Regions from separate parts of the Homo sapiens genome. Here all the other regions are reported to be linked to region 2. Evidence: microRNA targets listed by miRTarBase, many of them from high-throughput screens and not tested one by one. Region 2 holds a microRNA gene; each other region holds the end of a gene's coding sequence. Distances are from middle to middle.

Region 1 (4,132 bases), not on the chromosome of region 2:
AATAATTTTAATGTCTGGGCTCCTCTACTTGGTTAAAGGTAAGGTTAAATGTGTTAACACTTCCTCCAACCATAGTCCATTCCAGGTGGGGGAAAGGAGTCCTGAATTCCTTATATAATCCCTGTCACTTGTCCTCTAGATACAGAAGATCATTGAGACACTGACACAGCAGCTTCAGGCAAAGGGAAAAGAACTAAATGAATTCCGGGAAAAGCACAACATTCGTCTCATGGGAGAAGATGAGAAGCCAGCAGCCAAGGAAAACTCAGAAGGGGCTGGGGCTAAGGCCAGCTCAGCTGGAGTGTTGGTCTCCTAGGGACCAAGGCCTTTGCATTTTTTTCTACCCTGACTCCCACTTCTAATTTCTCTTTATTGTTATTATTATTATTTTCTCTGCTATTGTAATATTTTTTTGTTAATTAAATGTTTTGGTCAGAATCTTAGCTGTAGCCTGAAGTTTTCTCCCACTTGGGGGTGGAAATTGTTTTGAGACACGGAACAGCATATGATGTGTGGTTTTTGTTTCCATCAGGTTAATGACTCATAATATGAGAGTAGGACCCATATTTATTTTATCCTTTCCTTGCAAATAAAGGTATGTCCACTTATTTACTGCCCTTCCCCCTCCCCCCAAAAATTTCAGAGACAAATCTTGAGTCTCAGATTGAAATTTAATAAGCATTTGAAGTGAAGCAGATAGCTCTGGTGATAACGCTTTATAGGTTTGCAACAAAGCAAAACAAAACGAGGCTTAGTGATGTGTCTTGGCACTATTTAGATAAAGTCCAGGATGCAAACCTGTGGACTGGCTGTCCTGCCATCCTCACCAAAACCCCCAACCAGGTAAAGCTGATCATTCCAAAGGCAGGTGCGATGGCCCATGCGTTTCATCCCACGATCTGCACAGGGGAAGTGGAACCACAAAGGAGGAGATGTGCCTGTTGGATACGGGCAGAGGGTGGTTATTGAGGCAGTAGCACTTTGTCATTCACAGAATTCAACATGACCAAGGGCTTGCCCATTGTTTTTCTGCTCACTTGATTTGTAGGCCTCTTCAAATGCTTAATATTCTGTGTACTCCTTTAACTCCTGTCAACTAATTTTTCCTCCTCCCTACCCCATCACTCCATCCTCTTTCTGTAGTCTTCAGGTTCCCCCATCTTCCCACCTTCCCCCCCTTCAGCCATTAGTCTGGCTCTCACGAGTATCATAGATGTAGAGATCATTGCAGATGGTGTCTCTAGCTCTGGTCAGAGTTTCTCCACCAAACAGCACAGCAAAGGGCCCGACCACAGAACATGAGTGATGCCGTAGTCCATGGGGCCCCTTCTGGGACCCCTGCCCACTGCTCACAAGCCTTGCAAGCTGTTCCATCAAATGAGGAGCAACAGGTGGTTCCTCCTTGGGGAGAAAGAAAGGACTGTCCGAAGAGACCTGGGCATCACAATTTTAGCCTCTTCCCATCCTAAACAAGATGTGTGAGGAGCTAATACCTTAATTTTCCCATGACTCCAATGCCCAGCTACTTCTGGTTCAGCTAAGTTGCAACCTCCAAAGAGCAATAGCTGATGACCTGGATGGGGTCCAGGAGTTTGGAGCAGGGCCGCACAGTGACCTGAGCGTGAGGCTGTGTGGCAGCCTTCTTGCTTGTAGCTGTGGACATGCAGAAATTCAGGGCTGAGTGGGTTTTCTGGAAAATGTAAGTGCCACCGCCCTTGCCAAGGATGGATGGAGAAGAGGCATGGGGCAGTGCGGTAGGTGGGATAAGAGGGAGGGTAATACTGTAGAGAGCTCAGCTAGCTTAAACATGGTAGGTTCCCCTGGAAGGAGGGTGCTAGAGTGAGGAGGTGGATAAATTGCCTGAGAAATCTGCTTAGGCTTTTGTTTTTCGAGAGTGTGGATGAGAGTGAAAGGTTTTGGGCGGAGGGTGCCATACCAATAGGTGCGGGCGCTGGGGTCCAGCCTTAATGTGTAGATGCTTCCATAGCGTCGCTGAGTGTGGATACCGCCCTCCCGGCCAGCCACCTGCAGCTCTCGGTCAGAGATTCGGGTGCAGGTGTGACTACTGAGGCCGGCGGGGGGGCAGTCACCAGGGGTCCCTGTCCACGCCTCCCACACACCGCGCTCTGTGTCCAGTGCGGTCACTGTGGCCAAGCGGCGAGACCCGTCCCAGCCGCCCACCACGCAGAGCCAACGCCCGTCCACGGGTGCCGCGTCGTGGTGACTGCGCGGGGGGCTGCCCCGGGCTCCCAATCGTACGGCCTGGCCCCTAGCTGGGTCGAAAACCACCGTATCGCTGCTGGGCTCTCTCGCTCCTCCTGCTAGGAGACCACCTACGAGATAGAACCGTCCCCGCAGTTCGGTGCATGAATGGAAAGCTCTAGCCAAAAGCGCGTCCCGCGCCACTGGCCTCCAGGCCCAGCCTGAGCCTGCGGCCCGACCCGGGGGCACGGCCACCGCCATGGGCCCCGGGGAGAGGGAGGGCGGTGGGGTCTGCGGCTTGGAACGAGCCCCTACATGGCAGGCCAGGCACCTCGCCTTCCGCGGGCTTCCCCGGGAACCTCCCCCTACCGGACGCCAGCCGGGGTTCCCACCTCAAGTCCCGGCTTTCTCTCCGTGGTCGCCCAGCAACCACTGCAGCGGCTGCAGCGCGACCGCTGCAAACCGAAGGTCGCAAAGCAGCAGTTACCGTGGAGACAGGACACCTGGGTGGCTATCGGGAACCGTATGGTGGTGCCACCAAGGCTACGGGAGCTGTATCAGGTCAATAAAAATCCTGCAAGATTGTTAACCTCAGAAAGTCGGAGGACAGTCGGGTCCTTAGAATAAACCCCTGTGATCTCCGCTGTGAACTGATTTGCGATTTTGACATTTGAGGTGCAGGTGCTGCTCCACTAGGGCCGGGAGGGATCATTTGGCTTCAGGGTTTCTTACTCGGGCTAACCACCCCAGGGATGAGCAAGGAAGGAGAAGCAAAAGTCAGAGGGTGGGGAAGTGAAAGTGGACTGACCACTGGCCCGAGAGACAGGAGACCTGGGTTCTAGTCCCAACTATGCCCCTGACCCTCAAAGGCATTGTTTCTCTCTAGGCCTTCTCAGTTTTGTCATTCATCAAATAGGCTGTTCGTTTATTCCCAAAGGCTTGAAGGTCCCGATTGATTGGGTGGGAGAGTCCTTTCAGCTCTGGCCACTAGAGGGTAGCAGAACCCAGTCTCTCAGGTGACACACACACACACACACACACACACACACACACACACACAGAGAGAGAGAGAGAGAGAGAGAGAGAGAGAGAGAGAGAGAGAGAGAGATAGAGAGAGAGAGAGAACCCACGCAGCCTTAGAAGGGTGAAGTGGGGGAAGAGTGAGAAAATGAGAAAAACAGACTCCTACCCTTCCCTGATATCTTTTATTTAAGCCAGTTTCCAGATATTAACTCTGTCCCCCAGGACCAAGTGATAACTGAAGAGGCCCAGATGCAAGCTTTCTGCTTTCAGCTGAAGGAGGAAATACAGACAGAATTTTCCTCCCAACACAGCTGGTGTGGGGCAAAAACAGGATCTGTGTCCTCTGGGACTGGGCTGTAAGTGGGAATGATGACTGCTACTTGTGGCCTTTGGTTTCTACACATCACCTTGCTCCCCATCATACCTGAGATACTGAGACCATAGAAAGTGGCCAGGCAGGAGAATCACTTGAGGCCAGGAGTTCAGGAGTTCAAGACCAGCCTGGGTAACATAGTGAGACCCTGGCGAAAGAAAGAAAGAAAAAAAGAAAAGAAATAAAGAAAGGAAGAAAGGAGACAGTGGCCAGGGCTGCAGTGAGGATGGGCATGTAATGCAGGGTCTGATAGCACAGCAGGGCTTTCCCCTCCTCTTCCCAACTCTTGGTCCTCAGAGAACACAGCATGGGGATGGCATGGGCAGGAAAGGCACAGTTACAGAGATTGGAAGATTACCAGGACCTGTTCCCCACCTGTACCTTAAAGCCAAGATTCAACAATAGCTTTGAAAGTCTCTGCCCTCCCAACTATAGCTTTCCCTGAGTATGACAGGCAGTATTCTCAGTTTTCCAAAATCATGGTAAGAATCTCTAAAAAATCACTAACTTTTACTGTCCTTGGCTGAAATTTAA
Region 2 (4,132 bases):
AACATAAGGCATGGCTGGAACCCCGAGGGTCACTCTGAGGAGAATCCATTCAGACCTGGGAAAGGTCCCCCAGCCCAACCCTGAGGGTCACTCAGAGGAGAATCCATTCAGACATGGGAGAGGTCCCCAGCCAGACCCCAAGTCCCCCGGAAGCCTGCGGGCAGCTGGTTCCAGGCTTCCGACTTCTGGTGTTAAATCTTTGGAATGCTGAAAGGGCCTGGTTCCAGGCAAACGCTGCCCAATTTCCTCTCCCAAACTTGCCAAGTTCTTTCTCATTGTTGCATTGTCTTGAGAGGTGAGAAAAACAGCCCAGGGTGCGCTGTGAGCGACCTTTTCCAAGCTCCCCTTCCCCGGCCCAGTTTCTTAGGGAAAAGGAGCTTCCTTTCTTACTGGAAGCTAGAGAGTGAGACCTTTCTGGTGCTTTCCAGACCGGAAAAGTCCTGCTTGCTACCTTCCAGTAAGAAAGGAACCCACCCCGTCCCTGCCCTGCTGCCAATGTTTGGGGTAAACAGTTGCCCCGCCTCCTGCAGGACTTTCCAGAACATTGGTGAGAAGAGCCGAGTCCCGGAACCCATCCCCGAAAGAAGCAGACACTCTTGGGAGGAGGGTCTCCCTGCTCTTATCTTGCCTGAAGCCTTGTTTGTGGAGCAGCGGCTCTGTCTAATTTTTGCTGATGGGCAGCCACTCAATTTTTAGGCAGAATCCCCCAGAAGATGATCTGCGCCGCGCTGCTCTTTAATGCCTGCTACCCCATCCCAGGGGCCAGTGACAGCACCTTCAGGACGTTTTCATGACACTGTCTATGTACTTACATGCTTGGCCTCCCCACAATGAAATGCTAGCAGAAAGGGCATCAATGGAGGAAATGGGATAAACAGGCCCTTTCTGCAACGAGGGATTCTAATAACATGGCAGTGAGGGAGCTCACGCTGAAAACACAAAGCATCCAAAACACACCAACTGGACCCACGCTGGAAGGCTGGGCGCCTCTGTCTGCCAACTCAACCTGCTGGTAGATTGCTCTGTCTCTGAGCTGGGGATGAGGGGCATGGGCCTGAATGTCCTCTCTGCCTTCCTTGAAGGATCAGGTCAGCTCCCCGAGGTCTGCAAGAGGCATTGATTCAAATTCTAACAAAGTAAGAGTTTTACAAAGAGCTCCTTAGAAGACAGAGAGAGCGGAGGAGGAGGAAGAGAAGAGGGGAGAGACACACAGAGAGGACTGGGGGACAGGCTCAGAGGTGGTGAGAGGCCTGGAGGAAGGACCTGCAAGAGAAGCCCAGAGTGAGCCACAGCAAGGACTAAAGAGAGAGAAAGAGGAGAGGCAGGAGGGGACAGAAGGGGAAGGAGGGGAGAGAGATGGAGAAAAGGCATGAGAGAGAGGAAAACAGACACACATGGATGCAAAGAACCTGAAAGAGACAGAGATGGAGAGAGATCAGGCAGGCTGGGGTAGGGAAGGGGCACTAGCCCTCTTTGGGCCCCGCCATTCCCCTTGTCTGTAGAGAGAATGGCTGTGCTGTAATGCAGCAGGGTGCAGACTGCATTACAGCACAGCCAGACTGCAAGATCGAAGAGCCCCCTGTGATCTGACGTGATTCGCCCCAGGAGGGGCTCAGGTGCCTGCAGTATGAGGTCAAAATGAAAAGGCCTCGAGGTCAGCACTGCTCCACAGAACTTCGTGTGTCAATGGAAATGTTCTTTATGTGCGCTGTCCAACACAGCAGCCTTTGGCCATGTGTGGCCCCTGGCCACTGGAGGTGTAGCTAACGGGACTGAGGAACTGTGTTATTAATTTGATGAGTAAATTAAATCCATCTGTGGGCTGCCATGCGTGGCTGCTGGTGGCTGTGCCGGGCGGCACCATTTAAGGCACTTTCACTCATCTGCTGACTAGGAGCACTAAGGTAATGCCGTTCAGATGGGCACCTGGCTGTTTCTTGGTCCCCTCTCCCACCCTGGAGCAGGGAAGATCTGTCCCCAGGGCCAAAGGGGTTGTTCTCTGTGACACCACGGCTCTGGGATCTAATACAGTATGTTGTATGTGAATCAAGACAAAGTACAGCCTCTCAAAGCAGAGGGTCCTGCCACCCGTCACAAAAGGCACGTGAATACAACCAGGACTGAAGAAAGCCCTGAGTACCACACCAGGGGCCAAGTGCACCCCGCCCCAGCCTCCCTAGAACCACACAGACTCGCTAGCCCTGTTTATAGAATGAGCCAGCTACATACCACCCATGCATCACGGTGGGCAGAGTGTGGGGGTGAGGATGAGAGGGAAGCAAGGGAGAAGCCGATCCAGGTCTACCTCCCCTGACGGAAATGGCAGCCAGGGAGAGAACCACAGCCGCCAGGGGCAGGGGCTGCACCCACCTGGGTTCCCCTTGGGGGAAGGGTTGGGAGGCCGTGTCTGCTGCTCCCTCATTAGCTCGGAGTCCGGCTCTGGATCTGAGGAGTTGCAAGCCGCCTCCTCCTCCTCCTTTTCCTCTGCTTCCTCCTCTCCTGCTCCTGCCTCTGACTGCGCTGTCCACGGGATCAGGGGGCAGTGAGCAAGTGGGATGCTGGAGCAGCTAGAGGCTCCCCGCCCGCTCGGCTCCTCAGCACCACGGCGGCAGCTCTGTCCTGAAGCCCTGCCAGACACGGCGGCCAGGCGAGTCATCACAGCTGGGCCCGCGGCCACAGCCGGGTTAAAGGGACATTCCAGGCACTGCTTCTCTGCTTTTCAGCCTCACTGCCCCTCCATCCCTGTGGCGAGTGATGCTCTGGCCTCCTTTGGAGGCCAGGGCTGCCCCTCCAGCCCCAGAAGGAATGAGGCCCCTTTGCTGGTGGAGCAGGAAAGTGGAGGCTCAGGGCCTCCTCTCCTCCAACTGGAATGTTTCAAGGGGCTCCCTCCTGCCTCTCTGTCATGCACAGATCTAGGCCCCTCTGCCCTGCCACCACACTGATTCCTCTAGTGTCCCTCTACCCCTTCAGAGCTTTCAGTGGCTGCCTATTGCCTTTGGAAGAGGGTCTGAGGCTTCTTCACTTGGCTGGCAAGGCCTGGGTGATCTGGCCATCGCCCAACAGATCTAGACATATCCACAGCCCCAAACTCCATCTCTCCATCTCCTCCAGCTGCAGCAAGTACCCAGGTCCCCCATATTCAGGCTTTGCACACACATCCCCTCTGCCCGGGGAGTGTGCCCCCACCCCACCATTCTGGCACACTTCTACTCATCCCTCTACACCCAGTTCAAATGCCCCCTGTCTGGGGAGCCTGCTTTGGCCCCCCAGGCCAAATAAGTTCCTCCTTCTCTGGGCTCCCAGTCCTCCACGGTTGCCTCTAATTTAGCCATTATTTCCGTAATCATTTGTTTATGGCTCTGTCTCCCCAGGGGCTGAGGGGCTCTTCACGCATGGGGCCTCCCCGAGCACAGGGGAGAGGCTGCCTCAAAGCTCTGTGACTACAGCAAAGTCATTGGGGTAGGACAATCTCTGGCTACCCTACCTCTCCGTTGGCCACTGAACCCTGTGATTGCCCGCCCCATCTCCCCCGCCGAGGGGGGCTGGCACTGACCACCCCCTTCATGGACTCTGTGCTGCAGCCATCGGATGGGCAAGAAGGAGCGAGTGAAGAGGCAGAGGAGCTGGCAGAAGTGTCTGGCAGGAGGGTGACACTGACCTCTATCATAAAGATGAGAGGAGAGAAAGAAAGAAGAGGAAGGCTTTGCTGGCTGTGGTGGGGAGGGGGGGAGGGACAGTGTGGGGGTGTGGGGACAGGGTTAAAAGAAAAGCGTAGAGGGCAGAGTGTGAGAGATTCACTAAGAAGAAAGCAGACTGGGGCAGGCGTGGTTTCCAGAGTCCTCTGAGAGATGACAGTAAGAAACAGGACATTTCTAACAATGCTAAGTTGTTACGCTCCGCTACTGAGCTCAGCATTCCTTGGAGCCCAGACTGGGTGACTCTCAGCCCAATGCTGTTACACAATCCAGTGGCTGCTAGATCTAAAATAGGTTTTTAGAAAGCATCTCTTTGGGCTAAGAGAAGGTTTCCCTGGAAAAACAAGTTAGGAATAAAATGATCCCAAAAGAAAAAGCAAGGCAGGTCTTCTTCCCACTGATAAGAGAGTAAATTTTCTCTAGATGAGGGGTTTCAG
Region 3 (4,000 bases), 63 Mb from region 2:
TTTGTATTTTTAGTAGAGATGGGGTTTTACTATATTGGTCAGGCTGGTCTCAAACTTCTGACCTCAGGTGATCCACCTGCCTCGGCCTCCCAAAGTGCTGGGATTACAGGCATGAGCCACCGTGTCCAGCTGTACTGTGCATTTTTTAAAAAAAGGATCGGCTGCTTTGTGGACAAGGGGCTGTGGAGCAGACACAATGACAGACCAGATGAGAGGCCATTACAATAGTCCAGTGGTTAGAATCCTCAGCCCTCAGTCTGGTAGGTAATGATGGTATTTGTTTCCAAATATATTAAATGTACATGTGAACTTATTATTTTTTAGGAAAGTCGTGACAAGTGCTACCTAATCCAGAAACTAACAGAAGCCCAAAGGGACATGAGGAACTAACTAGACTGAGCGTGAAGATGGTGCTGCCTGTTGCTTCTAAGCTGACCTAGTGATTCTGCTGAGCCTACAGAGTCTACCTGGGTTTTGAGTGGACATTTAAAAATATATTTTTCTTGAGTTTAGGCTTTTCCATATGTGCAGCTGTGTTTACCTAACCCAGCCCTTAATTAGGGCTTCAGTGACTTAGAAAAGCAGGGGAAACCCAAGGCTTTGCCTGCAGACCGGCCACTCTGTGACAACTCTACCAAAAACCAACAAGCCATTCAAGCTTTTACAAGAATGAAAGAGCGGAGACGGTAGTTTAGTATTTGAGCCACGAGTTTATGTGCACAAGTGTTTTGGGTTGTGGACTGAAGCTCAGCCTGTTAATCAGACCAGCCCATGAGTGTATAACAAACAGAATTGGAGGCTGGTTTCTTAAACACACACGTCCACATTTTTTAGGGTTGTTTTCCTGTGCTTACAATTTTTAATGCATGTGCCTTTATTTCACAAAACATGTGGCTGGGCGCAGCGGCTCACGCCTGTTATCCCAACACTTTGGGAGGCCGAGGCAGGCGGAGCACCTAAGTTGGGGAGTTCAAGACCAGCCTGACCAACGTGGAGAAACTCCGTCTCCACTAAAATACAAAATTAGCTGGGTGTGGTGGCACATGCCTGTAATATCAGCTACTCAGGAGGCTGAGGCAGGAGAATTGCTTGAACCCAGGAGGTGGAGTTTGCAGTGAGCTGAGATCACACCATTGCACTCCAGCCTGGGCAAAAAGAGCAAAACTCTCCCTAAAAAAAAAATGTAGAATATCTCTTAAGATTTCCGTTATGGTAAAAACCATATGCAATAAATACCTCATTGTAAGCTTACCCAAAATTGATAGATGTCAACCTTTTAACAGAAGAACAGAAGTTTAAGTTATTGTTTAATGTAATCAGTTTTCATTTTAATATCTTTGAAATCTTTTTCAAAGGACTGTAGTTTTGTAATGGACTTTTCAAGCCTTCCTTCCATTGTTTTTCTTCCGTTCACTGGCTCCACACGTTTCCTGGGGAGTAGCCTGGAATTTAAAGTTGGGTGCAGGTTTTAGAAAGCTGTTGCTGTTAACAATAATTCTCCCGGCCATCTCCACTCCACTACTCAAAAATGCCTGAATCCTTGCTCAGAGGAGCAAAGGTATCTTCTCGTCCCTTTCTTACAGCCATTTTCTTGCTTTTCCACAAAGATATTATTTAAAGTGGAATATTTTTGTAACTGGGATACCAATGAGCTTTTCGGTCTTTTCCTGACTTGGTAAGGTTTATGGGTTTCTAAATCTAATAACTACAGTCATACCACCCTGAAAATGCCTGATCTCGTCTAAATCTAATAACTGGTGTCATGGAATTTTGAGTAACCAAAGATTCATTCCAGTCTCACTTAAAAAAATAAATTCTGCTGGGCACAGTGGCTCATGCCTGCAATCCCAGAACTTTGGGAGTCCAAGGAGGGCAGATCACCTGAAGTCAGAAGTTTGAGACCAGCCTGGTCAATGTGGCAAGACCCCGTCTCTACTAAAAGTACAAAAATTAGCCAGGCATGGTGGCGTGTGCCTGTAATCCCAGCTACTTGGGAGGCTGAGGCATGAGAATCACTTGAACCTGGGAGGTGAAGGCTGCAGTGTGCGAGACCGTGCCACTGTACTCCAGCCTAGGTGACAGAGGGAGACCCTATCTCAAAAAAAAAGATAGGTGAAAAGAAAAAAAAAGTTGTAATTGTAAACATTTCTGCCCAGTGCCTTTATATTTATATAACATTTTCACTGTGACCAGACTTGATGATATTCAAGTTTTCTATTTGTGTGTGTGTGTGTGTGTGTGTGTGATGAACACAACGAAAACGTACTGCGTTTTTTTTCCTATTATAAAAGTGATACTGAAATATGCTAATTAATATATTAATTTTAGTTAAATGCTGCTAATATGCATACCTCTTACTTGAAGGTTTTTAATATGTTTTGATAACTTTAATAACTTCAGGTGATGTCTGTATAACTTTTAAAGTGCAGCTCTCTCTAACAAATGTGCCTTACAACTCCTGATTAAACGGCGTCTTGAAGGTTTTAAAATGTGATCGTGTATACTGGAATTCAAAGAGGCTTCTTGTCAGCAGTCAAGTGATGATGGAAAACTGTAATAGTTTGTAAAGTTCCTCTTTGCTTTTTCCTAAAATGAGAGAAAAGAAAGAAGTGTTTAATGTAGTCCTCAGATGAGTGCTTTTAAAGCTCCTTGGCTCTGTTGAAGCCAAGGAGGGTGTATGTGTGTAACTGCCCAACTGGTTCATTTTGCCCGCTGCCTGGATACAGCCCATTCATCAAGACAGAGGAATTGCAGCAGAGGAATTGCAACAGAGAAAGCGTTTGATACATGCAGAGCTGGCTAAACAGGAGACCAGAATATTATTATTACTCAAATCAGTCTCCCTGAAATTTTGGAAACTGGGTTTTCCTGTGTATGTATTTTCTCTCTCTCTCTCTGTGTGTGTGTGTGTGTGTGTGTGTTTGAGACGAAGTCTTGCTCTTGTTGCCTAGGCTGGAGTGCAGTGGGGTGATACTGGCTCACTGCAACCTACACCTCCCAGGTTCAAGCGATTTTCCTGCCTCGGGCTCCCGAGTAGCTGGGATTACAGGTATGCGCCACTACACCCAGCTAATTTTGTATTTTTAGTAGAGACGGGGTTTCTCCATGTTGGTCAGGCTGGTCTCAAACTCCCGACCTCAGGTGGTCTGCCTGCCTCGGCCTCCCAAAGTGCTGGGATTACAGGCGTGAGCCACCGTGCCCGGCCGTGTTTTTTTTTTTTTTTTTTTTTTAATATGTAGTCTCTATTGCCCAGGCTGGAGTGCAGTAGTGCGATCTCGGCTCACTGCAAGCTCTGCCTCCCGGGTTCACCATTCTCCTGCCTCAGCCTCCCGAGTAGCTGGGACTACAGGCGCCCACCACCACACCCGGCTAATTTTTTGTATTTTTAATAGAGACAGGGTTTCATCAGGATGGTCTTGATCTCCTGACCTCATGATCTGCCCGCCTCGGCCTCCCAAAGTGCTGGGATTACAGGCGTGAGCCACTGTGCCTGGCTGTGTTTTTTTTTTTTTTTTTTTTTGAGATGTAGTCTCACTCTATTGCCCAGGCTGGAGTGCAGTAGTGCGATCTCGGCTCACTGCAACCTGGGTTCAAGTGATTCTCCTGCCTCAGCCTCCCAAGTAGCTGGGACTACAGGTGTGTGCCACCATGCCCAGCTAATTTTTGTACTTTTAGTAGAGATGGGGTTTTGCCCTGTTGGTCAGGCTGGTCTTGAACTGCTGACCTCAAGTGATCCTTCCACTTCGGCCTCCCAAAGTCTGGGATTACAGGGGTGAGCCTCCGTGCCTGGCTGGAACTAGTTTTTTTAATGGATAATTTGGTGGGTAGGGGGATGGAATTAGGGAATAGTATGCATTTTTGTTTTTTAAATTTTGTTTTGCCATTATAAAAATACTTGTTTTTTATAGCAAATACAGAGAACATCAAAAGCAACAGAGAAAAAAACTTAAAAAGCAGCACTTATGGGCACGCACTGTTAATCCTGGCAAAATTCTTTTTA
Region 4 (4,132 bases), not on the chromosome of region 2:
GAAATACAGCCATGCAACCAGTGGAACTAAGCATGGATGTTAATGGACTCTTCAGGAGGTTTTTGAAGGATAGGAGGAAGTAAAGGGAAATGAAAAAATGATGAGGATAAGAATAATGTAAGAAGAGTAAGACAAAAGGTACATAAGAAAGGGCATGAAAGTGCACCAGCAGGAACTCCTCAGAGCCACCCATGCTATAGGTTGCCTTCCCCCTCCCCGATCTCGTGTCATATTTTCTATTCAGTTTTCCATTGATTTAACATCAAAAGTCATCTGGACATAGGCCAATTTCAAGTAACATTCGTATAAATTAAAATATTCTTAAATGCAGCTAAAAGGATTAGAATTATCCGAAGTAAACATGTTTACTTTTAAACTGTGTGTACTTTTACTTTTTTTTTTTTTTTTTGAGATGGAGTCTCGCTCTGTCGCCCAGGCTGGAGTGCAGTGGCGCAATCTCGCCTCACTGCAACCTCTGCCTCCTGGATTCTTCTCCTGCCTCAGCTTCCCGAGTAGCTGGGACTACAGGTGCATGCCGACACGCCTGGCTAATTTTTTTGTATTTTAGTAGAGATGGAGCTTCACCGTGTTTCCCAGGCTGGTTGCGAACTCCTGAGCTCAGGCAATCCGCCTGCCTCAGCCTCCCAAAGTGCTGGGATTACAAGCGTGAGCCACTGCGCCCAGCCAGAATTTGAATCTTAATACAAGAACTATGCAATTTTCAGTGGAAATTTTAAGTCTTGTAGCAGGGCTATGGAGTAAGCATTGTAAATATGATCAAAGAGATGAACACATCTTGCATAAAGTATCAATAATCTGGGTGGTATATTACTGCTTAAATGGATGGATCCCAGCAATATCCATTGCAATAAAATTTAACCAAAATGTTTCTGGAAGTTTCTTGGCCATCTGTTACAATAGTATCCAATCTAGAGTATCTATAAAAAGGAATGTTACTCCCTTTCATGCTTTTTTTGGCCTCAAATGCCAGAACCTTTCGAATTTGAGAATTTTCTGAGTCTTATCAAAAACAGGATGAGGAGATAAAAACAGAGTTCTGACTCTGTATTCTTTTCAGACTCTCAGAAAAGTGTCTGGATTGAACACAAAAAATTTAGGCTTATCAGGTCACTTTATTGCAGCAGTAACACTTCATTCAGAAATTAGAAAGGATTTAGTTTGACTAGATTAAAGCACAAATTTTTATATTAGTATTTTTCATTTTCTTTGTGCATTTTAAACTTTTAGAACTTTTCCCACAAAAAACATAGTACTAAATATGCATTTATGGAATTTAGCATCTTACGTTTATACTTTTTCTTCTTAATTTTATATTATTATAGCAGAGTATTCTCCGTATGAGTCTATTACAATAGAACTTTTTCAGTGTTATAGATCCAGTTTGATTCATTCCATTAAACTGAAAACTACATATGTGAAGTTTAATATACAAACACATATGCTGAGATCTAAGTTATATATACTTGTCACTGCTGTTTTAATATGGAAACTAACCAAGCAATTTCTTTTAGTTTCAGATGATCACTTTTTTCCTAAAATCAGCCAAATTTTGAAAAGAAAAACACTGTAGAGGTCTTTACAGAGTAAAGTTTTCATTTTTAAATTACTTTCTGTAAAATTGGGGAGAAGGTGTTTTGAGGGGAGTCTGTGCTAAAACTTAAAACAAAATTTAACATTTATTTTTTGTTTTTGATTTTCTTTTACAGACAGGGTTCTGCTCAGTTGAACAGGCTAGAGTACAGTGGCATAGCTCACTGCAGCCTCCATCTCAAGGCTCAAGCAATCCTTCCACTACCTCAGCCTCTGAGTAGCTGGGGCTACAGGTGGGCACCATCATGCCTGGCTAATTTTTAAATTTTTTGTAGACACAGGGTCTCATTATGTTACCCAAGCTGGTCTTGAACTTCTGGGCTCAAGTGATCCCCCTGCCTTGGACTACCAAAGTGCTAGGATTACAGGCATGAGCCACTATGCTTGGCCTAATTTTTTTTTTTATTTTTAGTAGAGACAGGATCTTGCTATGTTGCCCAGGCTGGTCTCAAACTCCTGGGCTCAAGCAATCTTCCCTCCTCAGCCTCCCAAAGTGCTGGGATTATAGGCGCAAGCCACCTTACCCAGCCAAAATTAACATTTATAATAGTGGGTTTGATGATTGGTCTTAGTAGTATGTTTTGTTGAACTTCTCAAAAATGAGAAAGTAACGTTTTATATAACTGGACATGACTGAATGAAATCATTTTCTAAAAGCTTATAATAAGGACATGAAAGGGTAGTATGGTCAAAATGTAGATTTTTTTTCCTGCAAAAGAACCATCCACAGGCAAATTATCTAAGTCCCCTGAATATGAAATATGACACTATTAGAAGTGGTAAGGTGCAACTGCATGTATGACAAAGTAAGTTGCTGAATGTCTTCACAATCAAAAGCACTAACTTTTAAAGGCCTCAAGTACTAAAGCATAATTTTAGGGATAGAGGAAAGTGTTCTTGTTTTTGTAAATGAGTATGGGTCATGGCATGACTTTGGTTTTATTTTGGGTCCTCAAACTGAGAGCTTTCTTATGATAATCTGTATATAAATAGCAAAAAAAAACAATGGGAATGTTCATAGGATAAATAATATGAGTGCAAATTTTTGCCAGAAAGTTCTGGAAATGTAGGACTTGGTTCTTTTTATAAGTGCTTTTAACCTTTTCAGACTCATTAATTTCATAAACCAATTTAAGCAATTATTTCTATCAGCTACAGATATTTTCTTCACAAATATAAAGGGTTTTGCTCCCCTCCCCATCCTCCAGCCTCCACCAATTTGTGCCTGTAACTGCCACTTGATAGCTGCTCAGTAAGACTTTAAATATCAGGTTCTAGTGCCAACAAATCCAGAAGTCAGAAAAATTCTAAGTTACAATCGCCAGAATATCTTTCATGCATTCTATTTTACTTTATTGTTACAGTTTAAACAAATTCAGAAACGTGGGGTGTTTCTGGCTACTTGAGTAAAACGCACTGCAAACGCAAAGGGAACAACGCTGTAAACTTAAATGATTTCTGAACAGCTCAGGATCCTCCTGGAGGGGATCCTTTTCATCTCACATATTGATTCTGAACACTATGTTAGCACCTGCTCCCAGAAGGTCCCTTGACACTGGAGCAAGTCAGAATATCTTAATATCATAGCTTATTTAACAGCAGGAAAGCAACTTTAACATAGACTTGAGGTTTAGGTAGATCTGGTATTATCTAGAACCCAGGCTTAAATTTTGCAAAAAGTTTCCAAAGAGCATAAGAAAGTAAAACAGAGGTACCAGAACTGAAGACATCATTAACAAACAAAATATTTCCACTCCTAACCAAACTGCAACCCTTTCAGTATAGCCTGAGGTATTTTTAAACATTTGTACAAGCTAAAGATCATTCACAGTTTCCAAAGCTGCTTTTTACTGAGATAGCTTCAAATTTTCACAATATGTGACTTTCAGACGTTTTCATATACCAGAGTCTCTGCCCTCAGACTCATGGAAACATCAGAGATATTTAGTGGCAGAAAATGGTTCTTCTAGTGATAAGGGTTCTATTTCCCAATTATTGTGCTATTCCTAGGATGTGATTAAAAAAATATGAAATTTGCAATTTGTATAAAAGGAAAGGAAACTTGCTTAAAATTCAAAAAGCAAGTCCAGTCTGGTGGAGGTATGTAAGATATTAAATAATAGAGTCAGATTCTTTCTTGAACATTCCAGATGAACTTGACAGCAGAGAGTTCTGGTTTTCCAACATTTTCTCCATCTTTTCTTTTCCAGTGGTTTTACTGATCTCTCTTTGCTTCTTACTATGGATCCACGGGATAAAACAAAGCACAGCACCTCCAATAAGGGGAGGGACTCCAGCGAGGTAGAATGCCACATCATAGGAGCCCAGTTTGTCACGAAGTAACCCTGAGAAGGGAAAAAGCTGTCACCAAGGGAGAACAAGTGTGGCTCTGTAGGGGGTCTAGATCAGCCACAGGACTGATTCAGACATCTCAGACATCAGACTTTTTTTTTTTTTTAGGAAACAGATCTGAAATATAAACCCTTTTTGATAGGAAGAAAAAGATCTCATATCTTTAACG
Region 5 (4,131 bases), not on the chromosome of region 2:
ACGCTGGGATTACAGGTGTGAGCCACCACACCTGACTGGACCCAGAATTTGAACATAGGTTGCTGGGCACAGACATGTTTTTTGTTTGTTCATTTTGTTTTGTTTTGTTTTTCTTTTGAGATGAAGTCTTGCTCTTGTCACCCAGGCTGGGGTATAATGGTGAGATCTTGGCTCACTGCAGTCTCCACCTCCCAGGTTCAAGCAATTCTCCTGCCTCAGCCTTCCAAGTAGCTGGGATTACAGGTGCCTGCCACCACACCTGGCCAATTTTTATATTTTTAATAGAGATGGGGTTTTGCCATGTTGGCCAGGCTGGTCTTGAACTCCTGACCTCAAGTGATCCACCTGCCTCAGCCTCCCAAAGTGCTGGGATTACAGGCACATGCCACCGTGTCCACCCCAAACCTGTGTTGTTAACCACTATATTACCCTGCTTCCTCTAGAAATAATATTAGAAGGAAACTTCCTAAACGCAACAGAATATTTATCAATATCCAACAATGAACGCAAATGAAAATGTGAAATACTAAAAACATCCCTCCTGAGATTTTAGAACAAGACATAGAAGACCTGTTATCTACTACTCAACATTTTTGGAAGTTCTTGCTAATGCACAACATAAGTGGCATAAGATTGAAAATAAGGCCAGCTCACACCTGTAATCTCAGTACTTTGGTAGGCCAAGACAGGCGGACCGCTTGAGCCCAGGAGTTCAAGACCAGCCTGGGCAACATGGTGAAAACCCATCTCTACAAAAAATATCAAAAAATTAGCTGGGCATGGTGGCATGCACCTGTAGTCCAAGCTACTTGGGAGGCTGAAGTGGGAGAATCACCTGAGCCTGGAAAGTTGAGGCTGCAGTAAGCCATGATCACATCACTGTACTCCAGCCTGGGTAAGAAAGTGAGACCCTGTCTCCAAGAAAAAAAAGAAAATTTAAAGCTAAAGGAGCCATTAATTTATTATATACCTAGAAAATGAAACTAAAAAACCATTAAAACTAAAAATAATTCAGCAACATAACAGTCCAGATTTAAATTTTTTTTAAGTTTATGCTAGCAGTAACCAATAGAATTTGAGGTATGGCTTTCAAATGCAGCCAATTTTCCTCCATTCAAAAGCCTCAGGCTTTTAAGGATGTCAAGGCACACACTGGTGTAGAATTCCCTACATCTACTCTTTTTTTCCCTACTATTCCCACCTTAGTTATGAATAGTGCAGGTTTCCAACCTCTAGAGGGTTAGTGTGGTAGGCGATGAGCAGACAAGAACCAGAAGGTAAAACTGCAACATCCAATAAGCAGGAACGTTCTATTGAAGACTTAACCAGAAATGTCCAGCTCAGGGTAGAGGGCTGGACCCATGTGCTCATATAGGGTTGGGCTTGTCCCTGGGATCTGGGAGCTTCCAAACTAAAACAATGAAAAAGTCCTATCTGCATATCTTCTAAAGGAAAATGGAAACACATACTAAATATAAAGTTGAAAACAAATTTAAAATATATATTCATAAGTGGCAAATTTTCAGTTCTGTCCTGGGTTCAGTGTTTTCAGGATTCCTATTATTCTTTCTAAACTTGCCTGAGATATGTCCCTAGAATCACATCTAATCTTATTTTCCTATGCCTCAACTCCACCCTTTCTTCTATGTTAAAACATACACCACACCTCAAAAAAATCTCCCCTCCAGATTATATAACTCGCATGGCTCCTCTAGCCTCCTCCTCTACTCTGTCACACTGTGGATCCTCTAAACCTATTAAGTTTAAGGGATGGAAAGAGAAGGAGGTAGACAACAGAGGCAAACGTCCCCCAGATCTGGGCCATATTGCAAGGGTGGAAGGGAAAAGTTGTTCAAGCTCATGGACTGACATGTGATGGCAGAAGGACAGAAAATCTTCTGAGATTTCTTTTCTTATGTCTTCGGGGAATGAAAAGATGGTCCAGAAGACAATTATGATAATTAAGGGTACAGCTCTCATCTTTAAATTAAGATGGCAGTTGTAGGTAGATAGGACTAGTCGATAAGGAAAACAGATTCCTGTGAATCTATTATCTTGCCACAAGCCTCGTCATAGTGAATTCCAAGCATCAGGGAATGCTGCTAGCTGGATTTTCAATAATCTGTACCACTGCTATGAAAGTCAAGTCTTCGGTGCAGTAAATTTTGACACAGTTCTTTTTTTTTTTTTTTTTTTTTGAGACAGAGTCTCGCTCTGTTGCCCAGGCTGGAGTGGAGTGGTGCGATCTTGGCTCACTGCAAGCTCTGCCTCCCAGGATCATGCCATTCTCCTGCCTCAGCCTCCCGAATAGCTGGGACTACAGGCGCCCCCCACCACGCCTGGCTAATTTTTTGTATTTTTTAGTAAAGACAGAGTTTCACCGTGTTAGCCAGGATGGTCTCCACCTCCTGACCTCGTGATCCGCCTGCCTCAGCCTCCCAAAGTCCTGGGATTACAGGCGTGAGCCACTGCGCCCAGCTGACACAGTTCTTAATCTGTTGATTTAGGAAGCAGGGTACAGTTAGCAAATTCAGAACTAGAATCAGCATGTAGGGGAAAGTCCGTACCAGTGGGATATGACTGCCCAACCCAATACCTAGATACACACACATTCACACACATACACACACACACACACTCTCTCTCTTTTGCATACATACACACACACACACACACACACACACACACACACACACACACAAAATCCATTCGCATTTTGAGGCTGAAGTAACAGTAGTAAGACTTCCAGGAGTATATGTAAAAGATATCAGTAAGACCTCTGTATGTGATATTCTATGATGAGATGGACTTCCATCTTTAGAAGCAGCTGGTCCAGCTGGGGAGGGGAGAAAGATCGTGCATACTTTAAGGATAATTCAATGTGAGAGCTGAGATTTTAAAAATTATTTATTTAACAACTGGTATGTACAAAATACTATCTATATGGGAAAGAAATACATACCTGACCTCAAAGAGCCTACAATAAGTTGGTATAAAAGTATACAGACACGCAAAATTTACAAGGCAATTAACCACAGTTACATATTGTAGCACCAGTGAATTCAAAGCACTGAGGTCAAATCAAGAGAAGTTGAAGAAAAATAAAAAAGTACTTGAAGAAGAAAGTATTTCAGTGATGAGATGGATTTCAAAAATTGTGAGGGACAAAGATTAGCAAACAGAAGAAAATGTTTTCTAGATAGGGAACAAAACTGATGAAAAGTTATAGATTAAAGTTTAAAGAGTAGATGGGGAGGGCCATAGCCAAGAGGCAGGAAGGCATGAATCAGCCTTTTTGAATGACTTTGTATAAATGGTGAAATGGAGGAAGTAGAATAGAATAGAGAAGATATTATCTCTGTCTTTAAAAAGCATGGAGTCTGATTATGAGATGCATAACTAAGAAATGAAATAGATTTTAAAAGTTAAAATTTAAAAGTAAAGAAAAAAAAAGGAAACCTACAATTCAATGACATGTGTAGTCCTTACCTTCCTAATAATGGGTAAGAACTGGAATAAGTTACTCCTACTCTCCCACCTTAGTGATCCAAGGAAAAGCAAGTAGGGAATGGTCCACCGTGACTACTGGCTCCGGGAAACCACTATGAGCATCCTGCTTATAAAGACAGCTTAACTCAAAGGTCGTTGCTCTCTGTCTCAGAGAACCATACCTTAAGAAACTGACCAAGCCAGACCTGAGGACTTCTCTCCAGTGTGAGTTCGCTGGTGGTGATTAAAAGTGGAACGCTGACTAAAGGCTTTCCCACATTCACTACATTCATAAGGTTTCTCTCCGGTGTGGACTCTCTGGTGTACAATAAGCTGTGAGCTGTCACTAAAAGCTTTCCCACAATCATTGCATTTATAGGGTTTTTCCCCAGTATGGGTTCTCTGATGTACCATAAGGCTGGAGCTATAACTGAATACCTTCCCACACTCATTACATTCATAGGGTTTCTCACCAGTGTGAATTCTCTGGTGTATAATAAGGTGTGAGTTTTGATTGAAGGATTTTCCACACTCATTGCATTTATAGGGCTTTTCACCCGTGTGAAGTCTCTGGTGCCGAATAAGACATTTACTCAGACCAAATGCCTTACCACACTCGCTACATTCAAAAGGTTTTTCTCC
Region 6 (4,000 bases), not on the chromosome of region 2:
TATCAGGCTTCCAATTCCAAAACTTCTTTTTAGGGGGCCAGGTTTTCCTGTGCCACAAACTCTGGTCTGAGACCAGTCTGGGACACGTCTCCACAGTAAGTTTTGCAAGGCAGAGTGCAAACGGACGTGGGGCAGTCCTCCAATGTACGCACTCTCAAAACACTGCTCAGGCGGGCTTCCCCCGACTGGAAGTGACTCTCATCTACTTGTGAAGACATGAACTTGAACTCTGCTTGGAAACACGGACAGGTATTGCGCACACTATCCTGTGAAAGGGTCTTATTTAGCAAAATAAGTGACATTTAGAACTTTTACATGAAAACCAAATAGGAAAAAAAAAATCCCGATTTTCCTCAAATCCTCAGGCCTTGAATCTAGGCAAAGCACACAAACACCATATGAAACCAACAGCATGAGTTCAGGGTCATCTTGGAAAATAAATGTCACTCTGGGGTGACAGTTCTTTATACAAATAGTATGCTCCCCCTCTCAACTCCACTACCAAAAAGGGGGAAATAATAAGAAATTCAAAAATAGAAAACAACATCTTGTTAAGTGTAAACTTATCCTCTGGAGTTTTTATATTACATATGCTAGAAACATGCATTTATTTCTGCTCAGATGTACGAAAATATGTCTATCAGTATTACTTATAAATCAGATTAATCCTCAAGACAATGGACTCACTGTTAGAATACCATTTCAAACCTTAGTAAATTACATCGTTAGCAAAATTATAAATTCTAACCACAAGCAGAATGGGTTGAAGTTACACCCAATGAGAACTACCTCTACTCTTTATATTGTTGCTCATTTGTTAGTTTTCTATTGTTGCAAAGTCAGTGCTATGTTAACAAGGAACTTGTTTTCTTGGAACCCCAGATTAAACTCCTTACAGAAGTTAACTCTGCAGACTGAGAAGACGTGAACAGAGAGAGTCAAGGGGAGTGATGACTATTTCAGAGACAGGAAAGGACAGAAGAGATGACCAAAGGCACCCCCAAGGGATCAAGGCACAGAGGAAGAGGGACTTCATCCACACAGGAGCCTGGCTCCTGCAGGCCATGGCATGGCTCTCGGGGCTGCCAGCAGGGCTCCCCATAGCATAGGTGTGCTCTGCGGTGGGCCCTTGGGCAGGGTCCTGAGGACAGTGCCAGGGCCAGGCTCCAGTGCAGCACAATGTTGGGCAAAGGACTCCTAACACAGCCACGCTGGGGCTACTCAACCCGACAGTGGGGAGGGAAGGTGTGGGTGCTCACAAGGCAGGCATCCATAGAAGACGCTGCCCAGGTCCAAGTCAAAGAACTACACGTTCTCATCCGAGCCCTCGGCACTGAAGACCTCCACCATGGGCTGACCTCTCTCCTGACTGCCAGATACAGCAAAGCCTGGCTTACCCAGAAAACAGCTGGGGTCTTCTGCTTAACTCAGTTCCATCAAACTACCCAAGGGGTAACAGATTCTGGATGAATTTTTTAAAGGGTCTCAAGTTAAATGTTTCATTCATGATTCACAAAAGGCACTTCAAAATTCCACAGAGCCACAGGGTCACTGTTAGTAGGTCACCAATCCTCCTGTACAGGACCGATGGAGAAGCTCTAAGACAATGGGCTATGTGTTTCACCTGATGGGGTCCCTGGCCATTTGTAAATAAATCTCGGATATTAGCTAGTTTGTCATTTATCTTGCAGTCAAGCATACACAAAACAGAAAGACACACAGTATGTTTGCACTTTGAATAAATGAGATTTTGCTGTATCATGGCAGTTTATAAAGTATTCTCAAGTCTGTTATTTGACCTAAGATCCAACATTATAATCGTACATTTAAGAGGTTACAATGTGAGAGGTACTCATTGAGCAGAATTTTCTAATAATCTAATCACCTTGCCGATTTGCACCCAGTGTCCATTTAGAAACATGAAATTAAGCTACTGGCACTCAATTGCCACATTGCTAGCATTTAATAAGGACTCCACTAGATGGAGGAACAAGGGCTCTCAAACCAAATAACCAACGACCACAAGCATTTCCTGTCAGACAAGCCAAGGTCCTGCTGGAGCTGCCTCTGAAGGCAGCCGGCTGATGGACAGGCCTGGTCTTCCCTCTGTGTGCCCCACTGCCAGGTGGCACCTTACCCTGCGCAGGCGCTCAGCCTGCGCGGTGGTACAGATGCTTCACTCACACTTGCCGGGGGCTAAAATCACAGCCTATGACCAACCTGGCCTGGGGTGTTCTGAGGTAGTTCCTGAACTCGGGATGCCTGTTACCTACTCTCTTTCAGAAGTCAGGACATGTAGGAAGTATTAAAATATCCATGCATCGCTTTCATCAATAATCACTGTAATTGAGTGCAAAATAAAGGAAACTTGAGTTGCTTTATTTAGCTTCCAATTTCTGGGAGGCTCAAGAATTATAAGTATTCTGGACAACAAAAGAAAATAAGACTGTGCTTACAGATCTTGTTCTGCCATATTCTTGCTTTAGGATTGCTATTTTATTGTTGCCCTTTCTGTTACATGGGATGTACACATCAGGTGTTAAAAGGTACAATACATTCTACAACTGAGCACCACTTTCTGTAACTGAACAGGCAAAGAAATTACACTGAACATCAGCATCTGGCAGTATTTTTTTGGAAAAAAAAAGTGACTAAAATGGGTTTAAATTGATTAACACTATTAAATCACATCTAATATTTGATACTACATGATTCAATACAGCTATACGATACAATTATACAAAATGTGTTAACATCAAAGAATACAACCAAAATTAAGATAGCAAACAAAACCTATATAACTTTTTTTTTTTTACAGGAAAATACTTTTGAAGTATGCATGTAACTGCCCATTCTTTTAAAGAAAATCTACTGCAAGCAAAGTTATCAACCTCCAGAAAAATCACACGTAGCATTACTAAGCATATCCCCAAAAAAGTGTACAATATGCACACTTGGAAAATACAAAATTAAAAAAATTGTAAGCAACAGGTGAGCTTCATATTTATAAGAATGTGAAAAGAAGTCCCATTTTTAGCACTGTTGTATAAAGAATTGTCTTTTGATGCGAAGTTCATGAATTGTCCTCCTGTTGGGACCACACTTTACAAAAACACTGTGTTTTTGAAACGAGATTACAGAGCAAGATAGAGCATCTTAGCAATGTCATCTTAGTAAAGTTTTTTTTTTTTAATTTTTACTACTTTATCAAAACATGTCCCTTAGGTGTGTAGGATTCATTTTTAAAATTCTTCCTAGAAATAATATACAAAGGAGAGGCATATTTATTCCCAATCACACTTCTGGAAGATGCTTCCCGTGGTCGAGAAGGGTCTTCTCTCTTCTTTTCACTGGTTGTTTTTGGCCTTAGCATGTGTTAAGATGTGAGATTTCAGGTTAGTTGACTGAGCAAACTTCTTATTACAACCATCGAAGGGGCACACATAGGGCCTGTCTCCGGTATGGATTCGCACATGTGTGCGCAAATTGAAGTCCAGTGAAAAGCGTTTCCCACAGCCTTCGAACGTGCACTGTCAAGGAAAGACCAGAGATCAACCCACTCAGCAACTCTGACCAGACCCTGGGAGTCAGGAGCTCACTGCTTTGCTAGAGAACAGCCTATTTATTTTACCAAACACTTTTCATTCCTGCCCTGGGTGAACTTTGTGGATATAGTCTAGAATCAGCAGGCAGGTTGGACAACCCCGAAAACCCAAGGAGAGCCCTCACGAACTGTTTAAAACACTTGGCAAAATGGCAAGTCTTCCTAAATGCAGGCTAGAGTCCTAGTGCTGCTGTAAACATTTCCAACAGTAAAATACAAATGATTAAGGGTTCTGGTGTCAGTTGTCAAAAAAGAACCACGTTAGATTTACTAGCTGCACTGCTAGTTCTTTCACTTATTTATGGGCTAAAGTATTACCTATACTTACACTCTAGAAACTTTATCAGTTAGTAATTATACTATTAACTACCAAAAATAAATTACTTCAATCCTGTA

Evidence for each region. Region 2 holds the annotated microRNA hsa-miR-6504-3p (CAUUACAGCACAGCCAUUCU, at 1,505-1,524, opposite strand). A microRNA usually pairs through its seed, bases 2 to 8, with sites in the 3' UTR of a target mRNA and lowers its output. Matches are read on the target gene's strand: a 7mer-m8 pairs with bases 2 to 8, a 7mer-A1 pairs with bases 2 to 7 and ends in A, and an 8mer does both.
Region 1: miRTarBase lists PFDN2 as a target of hsa-miR-6504-3p. Seed matches in the 3' UTR shown: 7mer-A1 at 401-407.
Region 3: the mRNA of TMC7 is a reported target of hsa-miR-6504-3p. Seed matches in the 3' UTR shown: 8mer at 1,048-1,055 and 7mer-m8 at 1,975-1,981.
Region 4: the mRNA of SLC16A10 is a reported target of hsa-miR-6504-3p. Seed matches in the 3' UTR shown: 7mer-m8 at 1,973-1,979 and 7mer-A1 at 1,366-1,372.
Region 5: miRTarBase lists ZKSCAN7 as a target of hsa-miR-6504-3p. The part of its 3' UTR that is shown has no 7-base or 8-base seed match.
Region 6: the mRNA of YY1 is a reported target of hsa-miR-6504-3p. Seed matches in the 3' UTR shown: 7mer-m8 at 3,134-3,140 and 7mer-A1 at 583-589.

The regions. Positions count from the first base shown.
Region 1 is chr1:161,096,867-161,100,998 of GRCh38, reverse strand. PFDN2 (prefoldin subunit 2) reads left to right here. Exons shown (of 4, transcript NM_012394.4): 4 at 140-438. The coding sequence ends at 316. It overlaps KLHDC9 (kelch domain containing 9), which reads right to left and starts at 2,638. Exons shown (of 4, transcript NM_152366.5): 1 at 1,937-2,638; 2 at 1,494-1,653; 3 at 1,203-1,401; 4 at 653-938. The coding sequence starts at 2,463. The coding sequence ends at 775. RefSeq lists silencers at 2,215-2,264, 2,325-2,504.
Region 2 is chr16:81,608,779-81,612,910 of GRCh38, reverse strand. MIR6504 (microRNA 6504) reads right to left here and starts at 1,563; the gene lies at 1,503-1,563. The region is part of intron 2 of CMIP (c-Maf inducing protein); the gene reads right to left. RefSeq lists an enhancer at 4,120-4,132.
Region 3 is chr16:19,061,454-19,065,453 of GRCh38, forward strand. TMC7 (transmembrane channel like 7) reads left to right here. Exons shown (of 16, transcript NM_024847.4): 16 at 325-2,489. The coding sequence ends at 390. It overlaps COQ7-DT (COQ7 divergent transcript), which reads right to left. Exons shown (of 3, transcript NR_119381.1): 2 at 2,352-2,586; 3 at 1,301-1,442. Among named protein-coding and RNA genes, the nearest start is that of COQ7, 4.2 kb to the right of the region's middle.
Region 4 is chr6:111,221,827-111,225,958 of GRCh38, reverse strand. It overlaps SLC16A10 (solute carrier family 16 member 10), which reads right to left. Exons shown (of 6, transcript NM_018593.5): 6 at 1-3,956. The coding sequence ends at 3,724. Among named protein-coding and RNA genes, the nearest start is that of SLC60A2-DT, 35 kb to the left of the region's middle.
Region 5 is chr3:44,570,917-44,575,047 of GRCh38, reverse strand. It overlaps ZKSCAN7 (zinc finger with KRAB and SCAN domains 7), which reads right to left. Exons shown (of 6, transcript NM_001288590.2): 6 at 2,890-4,131. The coding sequence ends at 3,673. All of the region lies in intron 2 of ZKSCAN7-AS1 (ZKSCAN7 ZNF cluster antisense RNA 1), which reads left to right. Among named protein-coding and RNA genes, the nearest start is that of ZNF660, 12 kb to the left of the region's middle.
Region 6 is chr14:100,276,948-100,280,947 of GRCh38, reverse strand. YY1 (YY1 transcription factor) reads right to left here. Exons shown (of 5, transcript NM_003403.5): 5 at 1-3,530. The coding sequence ends at 3,348. MIR6764 (microRNA 6764) reads right to left here and starts at 3,591; the gene lies at 3,531-3,591. It also overlaps a transcript of SLC25A29 not described here. RefSeq lists an enhancer at 1,635-2,615.